Linked DNA regions of Homo sapiens: region 1 is linked to region 2. The links come from fine-mapping of genetic effects on gene expression. Tissue or cell type: prefrontal cortex. Region 2 holds a variant in brackets; the other region holds the start of a gene. All regions are shown on one strand. Distances are from middle to middle.

Region 1 (2,691 bases), 84 kb after region 2:
CCTGGGTGCTAGCCCTGTGTTGAACCTCTTTCTCGTGCAGATTTGGACAAATATTTATTCTGCACTTTAGTTTCCTTATCTGTAAAATGAATATGATAAGAATTATGTTTACTTACAATATAAACCTCTTCAATGAGTAGAAGCAGTGAGAGACATAGTATAAGTAATCAATACACGCTAAATGTCTCAGAAGTCATCTTAGAACATTAGTAGAATGTATTTTTTATAGTTTGATTTTAAATTCACAAATAGTAACTGTATATATTTATAGAACAAAATGTGATGTTTTGATACCTGTATACATGGCGGAATGATCCAATTAGGCAACTTAGTATATCATCACCTCAAATATGTATCATTTCTTTGTTATATGAACATTACGTGTTTTTGGACTAAGTGAAACAGAGACTGTTTGGAAAGCCATAGAAAGTAGCCACCCTCTTTTTATCCTCACACCAAAGAAAAGCTGACCACTTGCTAACCAGCCCACTTATTTCACCTTAAAGTAAATTGAATCTGGAACCCTGGATCATTCTATGAAATTTTCCAAAAAGCTAGTCAGAGGCCGGGCACCGTGGGTCACACCTGTAATCCCAGCACTTTGGGAGGCTGAGGCACGCGGATCACCTGAGGTCAGGAGTTCGAGACCAGCCTGGCCAACATGGTGAAACCCTGTCTCTACTAAAAATACAAAAATGAGCCAGGCTTGGTGGCGGGTGCCTGTAATCCCAGCTACTCAGGAGGCTGAGGCAGAATAGCTTGGTCCCGGGAGGCAGAGGTTGCAGTGAGCTGAGATCCCGTCATTGCACTCCAGCCTGGGTGACGAGAGTGAAACTCCATCTCAAAATAATAATAATAATAATAATAATAATAATTAAAATCTAGTGAGAAAGCAAAGTAAACTCAAGGAAGTCCTGGCTTTGCGATTTTGTTTTGTTATTCCTAAGCACTGCCTCACCTGCTCTAGCGTGGGAGCTGAGTCGTCAAGGGGAAAGACAATGAAATTGCTCTAAGTTATCATCTCTCCAGGCATTGTTCTGTAATAACTGTCACTGTTAACAGAAGAGGCCTCCCTCCTGCAGTGGGAATACCAGGGGTGGGCACTGTCAAGAGACCCAGCTTTGACTTCAAATGCCACCCAGAGGGACAACTGCTCACTTTCAGAGCAGGAGCAGGAGGCCAGAGGAGAGTGTGAGTCTAACATCTGCACAGTGAGAAGTCCAGGAGAAGCAAAAATGAGATCCAGGCTGGAGCGGCTGTGCCAGAGTAACTGTTCCAGCGGGTGTGGGGGAGGGTCCCCCAAAAAGACTTACCTGGACTGAATGGGAAATAATAGAAAATAGGAGCAAGAGACTGTCACTTTATAATAGGTTCTGTTATGACCTCCTACAACAATATGTTAGAAATTATGATTTCTAATATGTCTATGATACAGATAGACATATAGTTAGAAAACTAAATAAAGAGACAGATTTTGAGCTAGGTATACTTACAGATACAGACATTGATATCATAGATAAACATGTTCTTTATTTTTATATTGTCAATGTTTGTGTTGCTGGAAAAAGGGGTCCCTATGATCCAGACCTCAAGAGAGGGTTCCTGGACCTCCCACAGAAAGGGATTCAAGGTGAGTTGTAGAGTGTAGTGAGAAGAGATCATTTATTGAAAATTCTTCAGATTCAGAGTAGGGTGTCCTCAGAAAGCAAGAGGAGGAATGCCCTGTCTTTGTTTTAAACTCTTCTTACACAGGGGTCTCATCTACATAAAAGCTAAGCTATCTCTGTGTGTGGGTGGGCTGACAATGTGACAAGATGTAGTACTTTGGCCATTTAAAGAAAGTTATCCTTGGCATTTTAGTTTATAAGTACATGAAAGCATGATTGTACATTTCTTAAAAGCATATATTGTTATGTGATATTGGGACATGTGGACTTTCTGCTGTTGTAGGAGTTTGTCCTTGCAGGCATTGCCAAGCGGTTTCCTCTGCAGTAAACATCTTATGACCACGGGTCATAACTGGCAAGGAATGTGTGTTGCGAGTTTAAAGATGGAGTTAATTTTAAAATGGTGACACCTGGCTCTCTAGGCGCCTGCTTTTCTAACTTTTCTAGGTATAAACCTAATCTTCCTTGCTAGATCACAACCTCCAATGATCTATTTTTCATCTTCAGTTGTCCCAAGCACTAGCTTGTTCTGCGAGCGTCTCGTGGTCATGGAAAACTGATAAAGCACAGCATGAGAGGCTCAATGGATAAGAAATTATAAAGAATCACTAAATTTGCATAGGTGTTTTGATTGTGACCTACCGAGGAAGGAAGTGGAGAGGGTGTGTGGGAGGGAGGACAGCAGATGTGTAGACACGGCTTCATTTGCCTCCCACCGGGAATTTTGCCCGAGACTTATGGAGAGAATGGCCATTGGCAGAGACTGAAAGAGTTGATTTGATTCTCTGAGGCCTGATGCACTTGGTGAATTGTTTTGGGGTCTCTGTGGCATTAGGATAGGGGCTTTTTTTCTTTTTGTTTGTTTTGTTTTGTTTTTTTGGTCAAATGTCCTGTGTTTCAGGTTTCAACCAAGACTTTGGGAAACCAGGACTACTTGAAACCCTGATGGACTGCAGTGTTCAAAGAAGGAGGGAACAAAACCCTCTGGAAACCTCTGGAATTAGTGGCTGGGAAATAGCCCTTG
Region 2 (2,691 bases):
GAAGAAGCTCCATAAGCTGCCATGAGCACACATGGAGGCTCCTGGAGAGGACGGTGAAGCCACCCCCGGGCAGAATGGTGTCCAGGGGTCGATGTCTTCTGCTTCTTTCTGCCTACCAAATCACTCCTGGGTTCCCCTTAAACCAAGCTCTGACCAGTAGGCTCAGAGGCAAATAGATCAGGGAAATGTACCGCCCAGCCTTAGAAGAAGATGGTGGCACTGATGTGTCAAGAGGAAATATAGCACCTATATATATGTACCAAGGGAAGAGGGGGGGAAGTGTTCAAAATTACATTTCGTTCATTCATCCATTCAAAAAATACTTAACAATCACCTGCTTTATAGCAGTCACTGTCTTGCACCGGGATATAACACGGTACAAACTAGGTGCGATCTTTGCGATTATTAGGTTTATTGGTAGCAGTTGTTGCTGTTACATCTCACTGCTCTCATTGCAAATGTTGATGGTGGCTTTTACGTCTGTGAAAATAAAAAGCATGACCTTTTGATAGTTGTTTGCTGTATGGAAGCCTATTTTACTATGTTTGCATGCAAACTTCTATCTGACCTTAAGCTAATGGGAGCTTGTAAAGAGGTGGAATCGAATGTAAAGTTTGAAAAGACAAGAAAAGAGAAAAGGAAAGGGAAGGGATGGGGAGGGGAGAGAAAGAGAGGGGAGGGAGTCGGAAGAGAGGGGAGGGAGGGGAGGAGAGGGGAGGCAAGAAGGAAGGGGAGGGGAGGGAAAGGGAAGAGAGGGGAGGGAGGGGATAGGGGAGGGACGGGAGGAGAGGGGAGGGGAAGGGAAGAGAGGGGAGGGGAAGAGAGGGGAGGGAGGGAAAGAGAGGGGAGGGGAGGGGAAGAGAGGGAAGAGGAGGGGAGGGGAAGAGAGGGAAGGGAGGGGAGAAACAACAACCATATGTCTTTATTTCCTGTTAGCTCCATTTCTGGCCTTTGGTCTCTTTCTCGGAAAGCAGGCCTCAGTGGCCTCAGTTTCTTCCCAGAACCTGCAATGCCCCACCAAGGTGACAAGAAGTGCAAGGTAGTTAGCTCTCCTTCAGTGCTTATGAGTTGAAGGTGATAACATCTGAAGACCGGTT[G/A]TCACATTTGAATTTTTCTTTTTATTTCAGGAGTCGGTTTTCACTGCCAACCAAAGAGGTGACCCCCGCAAAGCAACCATGTTGGGACAGTCCATTTGCTGCGTTTTGATTATTTGCTAAGAGCAAATACCTTTTCTGTTTGGGTTTTGCTTTTAGAAAAAAAATGTGGCAGATGGTGGTGGCTTTCCCCGTCATTGAAAGAAGAAAGGTAGTAACTCTACTGGTGCACTCCTCTGAGTTGTGCTAACAAAGAAGAATGCTGAAAGAAAAGGGAAATGAACACCATTTTCAGGCAGCTTCTCCAAGTTTTTTTGACAGTGTTATAATTTTCCTTTAGCGACTGTTGAAGCAAATATCTGTATTTATGTTCAGATTAAACCGAGAGAGCAAAGACTGCTAAAGCCAGTAATTTCTGGGCTGCAAATGCAGGATAGCTCCAGTGAATTTCAGATTCTTAAAGGTTTTTGCTGTAGCGAATTCATGACACAAAGCATTTGGAGGGAAACCTATTAGAGAAGAAACACATCCTAAATGAGAATTACTGAGGACGGGAGGCTCTTGTCATTTATTGGATTAGTTATAGCACTTTACACAAGCCTGTAATATTTGTTCTGCTGCTGTGGTGTGACTGGTAAAATGAAAAGGTATGTCAAGGGAGTGCTTGACTGACGTTCTTATTTCTTCCGTCTTCTTATATTGCTGGGAGGATTCTACCACTGCAGGGCTAGAAATTAATATCACACTCATTTGATAGGAAGAGCAAAAGCAAGGTTATGAGTCAGAGACATTTTGGTCCCAGAACAATAACTCTATTGATTGAGTCAAATATGTTTAACTCCAACAGCAAGACCTTCCATCTGCGTGAAATAATCATGTCCGTTAATTGTAAACAGGAGCATCTTTGAAAGCTGAGCTAGAGGCGGAGCAACTGGTAAACCAGATGTCCCAAATTTCTAGGTTTGTACATTGTAATTGTTCTAGACTTGTGTGTGGATATTGGTAAAATGACATAGTCAGATATCTCACAGATTTTGTGAGATATGTCCAAAGTTCCCAAGTTAATTTATTACTAAAGTTAGAATTTCACTTACTGTGAGATTGGAATGCCAGCCAGCTACTGAACCTTATGTGTGCCTAGGGGCCATTTTGAGACAATTTGCTGAATATTAAAAGTACAACCAATAATGTTTCTCTCCACATCCACAATAGCGCTTAGAGGAAGCATCTGGGATTGAGCCATCTCACATCTGTCTAATCACATTCATTCAAATGTGATGGGCCCAACTGGCCTACGTACATGGCTGCATATCACCATGGGTGGAAATTAAATCAGAATTTGGCTCAGGAGAGAGATGAAGAGAAAATGCACGTAGATAATTGGCTCAGATAACATTCTGTTTCTGGAAGTCACAAAGAGTGGAAATTGGAATATGTAAATTAAAGAAAAACAGGTAAGAATTCACATGAACCCCAACCACACACCCTGTGTATGTTCTCATTCTCATTCTCTCTATGGTGCCTGTGAGCAGTTGGAGTTTGAATTTTTCAGTCAGTAAGGTTTGCTGTTTATTCGAGGGCTGCTCCTAAAAAATAA

The links. PIP is the estimated chance that this variant, and not a neighbour inherited with it, causes the effect. A credible set is the group of variants that fine-mapping cannot tell apart.
Region 1: LINC02347 starts here. The variant in region 2 is the best candidate, but not a certain one, in a credible set for the expression of LINC02347 in prefrontal cortex (GTEx, PIP 0.65).

Annotation. Positions count from the first base shown.
Region 1 is chr12:126,441,398-126,444,088 of GRCh38, forward strand. LINC02347 (long intergenic non-protein coding RNA 2347) reads left to right here and starts at 1,084. Exons shown (of 12, transcript NR_130748.1): 1 at 1,084-1,191; 2 at 1,569-1,630. All of the region lies in intron 2 of LINC02825 (long intergenic non-protein coding RNA 2825), which reads right to left.
Region 2 is chr12:126,357,099-126,359,789 of GRCh38, forward strand. LOC105379613 (a long non-coding RNA gene) reads left to right here. Exons shown (of 3, transcript XR_001749379.1): 3 at 1-629. It overlaps LOC101927531 (a long non-coding RNA gene), which reads left to right and starts at 921. Exons shown (of 3, transcript NR_187677.1): 1 at 921-1,039; 2 at 1,128-2,548. The variant G/A (reference allele first, on the strand shown) is at 1,098.